Homo sapiens: one gene and its partner. Changing the gene in region 1 together with any one later gene gives a genetic interaction. Each region holds a gene or a part of one and is shown in the gene's direction. Other genes may lie near its edges.

What was found.
Region 2: changes in FHIT (region 1) and CHEK1 are lethal when combined (synthetic lethality), as found in Homo sapiens cells (one large-scale study listed by BioGRID).

What each region holds. Positions count from the first base shown.
Region 1 is NC_000003.12:60,009,216-60,013,176, reverse strand, and holds part of FHIT (bis(5'-adenosyl)-triphosphatase), read left to right. Parts: intron 1-1,776; coding exon 1,777-1,806; intron 1,807-3,961. UniProt on the Homo sapiens protein: Possesses dinucleoside triphosphate hydrolase activity. Cleaves P(1)-P(3)-bis(5'-adenosyl) triphosphate (Ap3A) to yield AMP and ADP. Can also hydrolyze P(1)-P(4)-bis(5'-adenosyl) tetraphosphate (Ap4A), but has extremely low activity with ATP.
Region 2 is NC_000011.10:125,649,163-125,652,662, forward strand, and holds part of CHEK1 (serine/threonine-protein kinase Chk1), read left to right. Parts: intron 1-3,500. UniProt on the Homo sapiens protein: Serine/threonine-protein kinase which is required for checkpoint-mediated cell cycle arrest and activation of DNA repair in response to the presence of DNA damage or unreplicated DNA.

The sequences.
Region 1 (3,961 bases):
AAAGAAAGCCAGTGTTTTCAGGTTATGAAGGCTCTGACTAAAAGTGCTCATCTTCTTCTCAAACAGATTTTTTTCTTTCTTTTTTTGCTGCCATGTCTGTGTTAAGAGTAGCTAAACTTCCCCCAAATGCTTTGTGTGTATGTGTTGTATGTCAAACCATTTGAGTCCCCTTCAGGCAGGTAGTTCAGTTCAGAGTGGGTTTATCAAGCTTATGTTGCAAACCGTGTTTCTGGAGAGACTAAATGAAGGCAGTGAATGAAAACCTCTGTTAATGTTTAGTGAGATACAAGAATAAAAATCACATTTATAGGAAATGGCCATTGCTGGTTATGGAACATTTTTCACTAGAAAGTTAATTCCATAAATGTAAGAGCTGACTTGTGTTAGCACCTAGAGTACTTTCGTATATGCAATGTGGTCAAACTATTTTTTACTGTAACCTACAGTAAGATACATATTTATTTCAAAATCATGCCTGTCTCCCCTGACACACATATATGAAATATATGCATATGCCTATATTGATAAAGGAAACCAGAGTTTCACAAAACAATGTTTACTCATTCTGTGCAGTCTAATAGTTTTTATTCTATTAAGATCTGATTTCTGGCTGGGTGTGGTGGCTCACACCTGTAATCCCAGCACTTTGGGAGGCTAAGACCGGCAGCTCTCTTGAGCTCAGGAGTTTGAGATCAGCTTGGGCAACATGGCAAAACCCTGTCCCTAAGAAAAATACAAAAATTAGCCAGGCATGATGGTGCATGCCTGTAGTCCCAGTTACTCAGGAGGCTGAGGCAGGAGAATCACTTGAGTCCAGGAGGTCAAGGGTGCAGTGAGCCGCCATCATGCCACCATACTCTGGCCTGGACAACTGAGTAAGACCCTTTCTCAAAAAAAAAAAAAAAAAAAACAACAAAAAAAACACCTGATTTACATTGTTTGTAATGCTGATTGCAACCCATTAAGTTGACTTCATGACCCACTAATGGATTGTGACTCTAAGTTTGAAAATCCCTGATATACACAGTTATGCTTAATCCTTACGGCGGGAGTTCTCACCCCGTTAGTCAGGCTCATAGAGGTAGACAAACCTGGCTAAAGTTGCAGAGGTGAAATTCTATTTTGGAATTTCTGATTGTGGAGCCATTGCTTTGTTTGGCCATCTCAACCAGCTGAGTATCTGCTTTTGCTTTATATTATGGCTGGTGACTTGGTGAGTTTGCCCATTTCCAACTAAGCTTCAGAAACAGAGAAAGGGAACCAGTTTGGGAAAAGGGTCCAGCTACAATGAACACTACCATTTGTCTCCCACAAGGTCAGAATAGCCAGAGGACTCTTCCCATATGAAATACCCCATATTCTTCCTTAATGGCTTATGTTTATAGCAGATTTCCTGAGTAGAAGCTTAAAGTAATCAGACATTAATTAAACCACCTCTAAACATAACCAGAAGGTGTGATACTTCACCTCCCCAAACATTTTCAGCCTTCCTTTAATGCAATTAAAACCATAGCCTAGAGCAAAGAGCATGAAAAGTAGCAAGGAGTTGGCTTGCTGGATAATTTATATCATTTTTATACATAACTTCGCACTTACTCTCAGGCGGAAATGGAGAACTGTCTAATCCCGCACATTTGAAGCCAATGGTCCCCATGAGAATACTATAAATTAACACACAATGAAATTGCATCTAAATTATTAATGGGTGATATTTCTGAATAAGCAGGAGATACCATCTATCTATTCTCACCTCTGTTGGTTTTTTCCTACTTCTAGGATGGCCCCGAAGCCGGACAGACTGTGAAGGTGAGTGCTTATTATGTGCATACAAATTAATAAGAGGCGATTATGAGAACTAATAAAAAATCACAACGAGTCATATGCAGCACATTGCTGTTTCATTATGTTATCTTCGAGGTCAGAGAGACCCTCAGTGTTAGAGCCGTAAATCCTGACATTATAAACTCTGCCAAACAATATGTTTCCCATTGGTTTACAAGACATTTACTTTTAGTAGTAAAATTATTATTGTGCAAACGCTAAAACAGAAACTAAATCAAGGAGTCCGGAAACATAAGTCAAAGTGGTTCATGTGAGAGAGTGTCTAGGAAATAGCATGTGAGCTTCCTGTGGGTTTGTGCAGCCCCATGTTAAGCCTGGGGTGTCTTTGACACACCTTTGCTTCTTGACATAGTCTGCTTTTGCTTCATTGTTTTTGAGTGAAGCAATAACCGCAGCAGTAGCATCAAGCTGCCTCCCTTCCTTTCTGTTCTCCTGTGCTTCTCTCTGTTCTCCTTCTCGTCACCCCCACACCTACTCTTTTCCTCCCTGTGTACTTAATACCAAAGTTCAAACCTAATGGAGTCAGTGGAGCTCAAAGATGGGTTTTTAAGTGTGCTAGGAGAAGAAAGGAGGATTTATTAGGATAGTCTCTGCTTCTGTAGTAAAAATAAAATAATAAAATCCTGGCTGATTCAGAAGCTGGGTTTCAGCTCTTTTCATACAAATGCTAATTCCTATACGGGTAGATTCTGCACCTAAGTCATAGAAAAGGCTCTATTTTTGGTGCTAGAAGTCAGAAGCAAGTCAGGCTGGGATGTTAATGTTACACTTTGTTGAAATAAAGTTTAATGCTTCGAAGACTAGCTGTGAGTGGATAAGGTGCTGCCCACACAAACAATGCCAAATAAACGTAAGTTCCCTTTTGATCTTACTTTACTTTTGTCTTTAACACAGCTATTCTGGGACTTTTAAAATACAATCTCTGGGAAATACTTCTAAGCAGTGAAAGTTTATGTAGGGACTGCCACCATATGGGCTACCAAATTCCTTATCATAAAAAAGGGCTAGCCTCCTAATTGCTCTACACACAGGGTATGGTGATAGACACAGAGGCTTTCAGCTTTCCTCTGTCCCACTGTCTCACCTCCATGTGAGGCTCTAAATATACGGATGCAAAGAAAGGATTTAATACCTGTGGCTTCTTTTTGAAATCACTTCTTGAAATGCAAAACACAAATGTTTAAACTTGGTTCCAAGATTTTTTAAAACTCAGTATTCAAATGTAAATTCCAACTATACCGGATTAGTTAGATGCACTATGCAATATCTATTTGATGGAATTCCTTCAGCCATTGAAAGCGATACTGTAGAGGCATAGCTAGTGACATGGGGGAATGCACAAACTGTATTAAGTGGGATGCACAGAATGATAATAGGTGCATAGTAAGCATAGCTAAAACTTATATGAATAGATAGGTTATATGATCTCAAAATTTCATTTAGCCATTCTAAAGCGGGATAGAAAATATTTGCTATGCAACAGGCTCTGAATAGAGATAGAAAGTAGATTAGTGGTTGCCAGGGACTGGGACAAGGAAGGAATGGGGAATGATTCCTAATGGATACAGGTTCTTTTAGGGTAATGAAAACGTTGTGGACTTAGTGGTGATGGTTGTGCAACATTGTGAATATAATAAAGCCACTGAATTGTACGTTTTAAAATGGTGAATTTTATCATATTTGAATTATCTCTTGACTAAAAATAATAAACACACACACACAAAACAAATAAGCAGTGAGCCTAGCTGGGCTGATAACTATGGCTACAGATTGTGTAACTCCAATAGTAATTACTTTTTGATGTCCCAATTATCTGGCCAAAATGTGTAATGTTTTTGTTACCTTTGATGGTGATGATGATGGACTAATTCTTAACATATAGTACTTATATATGAATTGTTGAATGTGGTTATTGTTATCATCACCCTGATTATTTAGCTTAAGTTGAACTTTTTAAAACGATTCTGTTTTTTAAATCAGCAGGTTATGCTGTTTTGCACATCTTTCAGTTGTTTCCAACCTGATCACAGAAGTTTCCTGATATGAAATAATGGGGATATCTTGACTCGTTTGTAGAATATGGTGGTTATAAGAAAACCACCATACACACACACACACA
Region 2 (3,500 bases), on another chromosome or scaffold:
TCACCAGCTATCTTGTGTATTTTCCTTTTTTTAGATGGAGTCTCACTATGTTGCCTAGGCTAGACTGTAGTGGCTACTTAAAGGCACGATCATAGTGCAATGCAGCCTCAAATTCCTGGGCTCAAGTGACCCTCCTGCCTTGGCCTCCCAAGTAGGTGGGACTGCAGGCATGTACCACCATACCCAGCTACCAGCTCTCTTTTGGTTATTGTTTCCATGGTCTATTTTTTTTTTCCTTTTCCTTTTAACCTATTTGTGTCTTTGAATCTAAAGTGCCTTAGCCAGGTGTCATGGCTGACACCTGTAATTCCAGCACTTTAGGAGGCTGAGGTGGGTAGATCACTTGAGGCCAGGAGTTTGAGACCAGCCTGGCCAACATGGTGAAACCCCATCTCTACTAAAAATATTTTAAAAATTAGTTGGGCGTTGTGGTGTGCACCTGTAATGCCAGCTATTGGGGAGGCTTTAGGTGGGAGGATAGTCTGAGCCATTGGAGATCAAGGCTGCAGTGAGTCGTGATCTGATTGCATGACTGCTCTCCAGCCTGGGTGACAGAGCAAGACTGTCTCAAAAAAAAAAAAAAATCGCTTCTTAGCCTTTTGGCTAAGATCAAGTGTAGTATCTATTCCTATCAGTTTAAGTGCCTTAATTTCTCTTCCACTTTTTGGACAGGTAGTTTTGCTGGATATAGAATTCTTATTAGCTTTTGTCTTTCAGCACTTTGATTATGCCACTACTGCCTTCTAGCCTTTGTGGTTTCTGATGAGAAATCAGCTGTTAATCTTACTGAGGATCTCTTTTATGTGAGACGTTGCTGCTCTCTTGCTGCTTTTATGTTTCTCTGTTGACCACAGTTTGACTATGGTGTATCTTGGTGTGGATTTCTTTTTTCATTCTGTTCGGAGTTCGTTGAGCTTCTTGGATATGTAAATTAATGTTTTTAATCACACTTGGGAAGTTTTTGGCCACAATTTCTTCAGATTTTTTTTTTTATATCTAACTCTCCTCTCCCTCTTGGACTCATTATGTTTATTGTTGGTATACTTGATGTGCCACAGTTCTTAGACTCTGTTCATTTTTCTTTATTCTTCTTTCTTTATGTTTCTCAGGGACAGTTTTGGTTGCTGTTTTTCCTTTATAAGGGCCATACTTTGTTTCCTTACATGCTTTGTAATTTTTTGTTGAAAACTGGACATATTGTGGCAATATGTGGCAACTCTAGAAAGTCAGATTTTCCCCTCTTGCCAGTGTTTGTTACCGCTTGATGTAGTTGTTTGTTTTTTTTAGTGGTGTTTGTTTTTTTTTTTTTTTGAGACGGAGCTTTGCTCTTGTTGCCCAGGCTGGAGTGCAGTGGCGTGATCTTGGCTCACTGCAGCCTCCACCTCCTGGCTTCAAGTGAGTCTCCTGCCTCAGCCTTCCAAGTATCTGGGACTACAGGCACCTGCCACTGTGCCTGGCTTTTTGTATTTTTATTAGAGATGGGGTTTCATCATGTTGGCCAGGCTGGTCTCGAACTCCTGACCTCAGGTGGCTGGGATTACAGGTGTGAGGCACCATGCCCGGCCCTAGTGATTTTTCTTATATAATTTTTTAAAGTTGGTATTGTTTGTCATGCATGGCTGTACAATTTCTGTCCCATTAGTTTTAGTGGTCAGCTAATGATTGGACAGAGATTTCCTTAAATTCTGTATACCAAAAACAAAAAATCTGCAGAGTGTTCTGTATTTGTGTTGGGGCACACCTGCAATACTCAACCAAGAAGTTTACAACGTTGCTTCAGCCTTCGCTATCTGCTTGTGCAAAATGCAAAGTTAGGGCACATGTAGAGCTTAGGGGCCTTCTCAGCTCTTTCCTAAGCATATGTACTGCCCTGGTCATGGGTGTGTCTTTTTAGATTCCCAGGTATATGTTGGACCTTTTCAGAGTCCTATTCCCCAGAAACATCTCACTCCCTAACCTCTTCTTCCAAACTTCTTGGGTAGTCTGTTTGCACCAGTTGCTTTCATTGCTTCAGGCAACAGAGACTAAAGCATTTTCCTGTAAGTGTTTTCAGCAAACGCTACTCAGGAGTAGCTTTAGCACAAGGTGAGTTAGAGTTACAAAGGTGAAATAAAGACAAGCCTCTTTTTTTTTTTTTTTTTTTGAGATGGAGTCTCGCACTGTTGCCCAGTCTGGAGTGCAATGGTGTGATCTCAGCCCACTGCAACCTCTGCATCCCGGGTTCAAGCGATTCTCCTGCCTCAGCCTCCCAAGTAGCTGGGATTACAGGCGCCTGCCACCACACCCTACTAATTTTTGTATTTTTAGTACAGACAGGGTTTCACCATGTTGGTCAGGCTGGTCTTGAACTCCTGACCTCAGGTGATCCACCCACCTCGGCCTCCCCAAGTGTTGGGATTACAGGCATGAGCCACTGTGCCTGGCCAGGACAAGCCTTTTGATCAGGTCATTTTAGAGGGTCAGATCGGCTTAAGATAGTTTGTAAATGAGGTTTATTCTGCTCCCACCTGGACCTATGCCTTAAATATGAACTGTTATTTTCAAGGCTGCTACTGAGTGAGGAGCAGGGGATAAACAGGGTAAGTTAAAATGCCAGAAAGCTCACTGTTCTTACTGCGTTTCACTTGTTTTGAATAAGTTGCTGCAAGCTTTTAGCTAGTTTACAATGTTCTGAAAAAGTTGATTCTGACAGGCTTTGGCAGGTTTTTAAAATTGCTTTTGTGGAGTAATGGACTTCTGGAGTTCTTTTCTCTGCCATTTTCACTGACATCACTCCTTGATTCACTCTCTCTCAGTTCTTGAAGTATTTTCTTTGTCTTTGAAGTTTAAGAGCTTAATTCAGATGTGTTGAGTTGAATATCTTGTATTAATTTTCCCAGAACATAGTGGGTTATTTCAGTGCTGCACAGTCGTGGTATGGTTGTGTGTTTTCATAGTTTCTTGAAGTAAGAATTATTACAAAAACTTTTGTAATTTGGGCTGTGTTTTTTGGGCAAATCTGCTGATCTCGCTCGGGCTTAACTCATCCAGCTGTAGTCATTTGATGTCTTTACTGTGGCTGGTGGTCTAAAACATCCTTACTCCCATATTTGGAGTCTTGGCACTGTCTGTTAGCTGAGTCTTTTCTTTCTGCATCATTCAGCTAGGCTGAGCGTCTTTCCATGCCATAGGAACGTTCTAAAAGACTGAAAGTGGAAGTTGAAGGCCTCTCAAGACCTTTGCCATCTTCTAATTGCCGCTCTAGCTTTTCAGCCACAAGTCAGGCCTTTTTCTTTCTCACATTTTAATAATCTTGTTTTTCCTCCCATTATGTTTTCATCTTTGATTGTTTCTTCTTTCAGTGGTATTTTGGTAAAAGACAGTAAGTTTTGTTGCTATGAGTTCATATACACTCAATCCCTAGGAGCTGCACCCCTGTTGATAGATTGGGTTGGGGACACACATACCCACTGGGAGAAGAGAGACTCTGGAATGAGTGAGATTATCAGCATACTTAATAT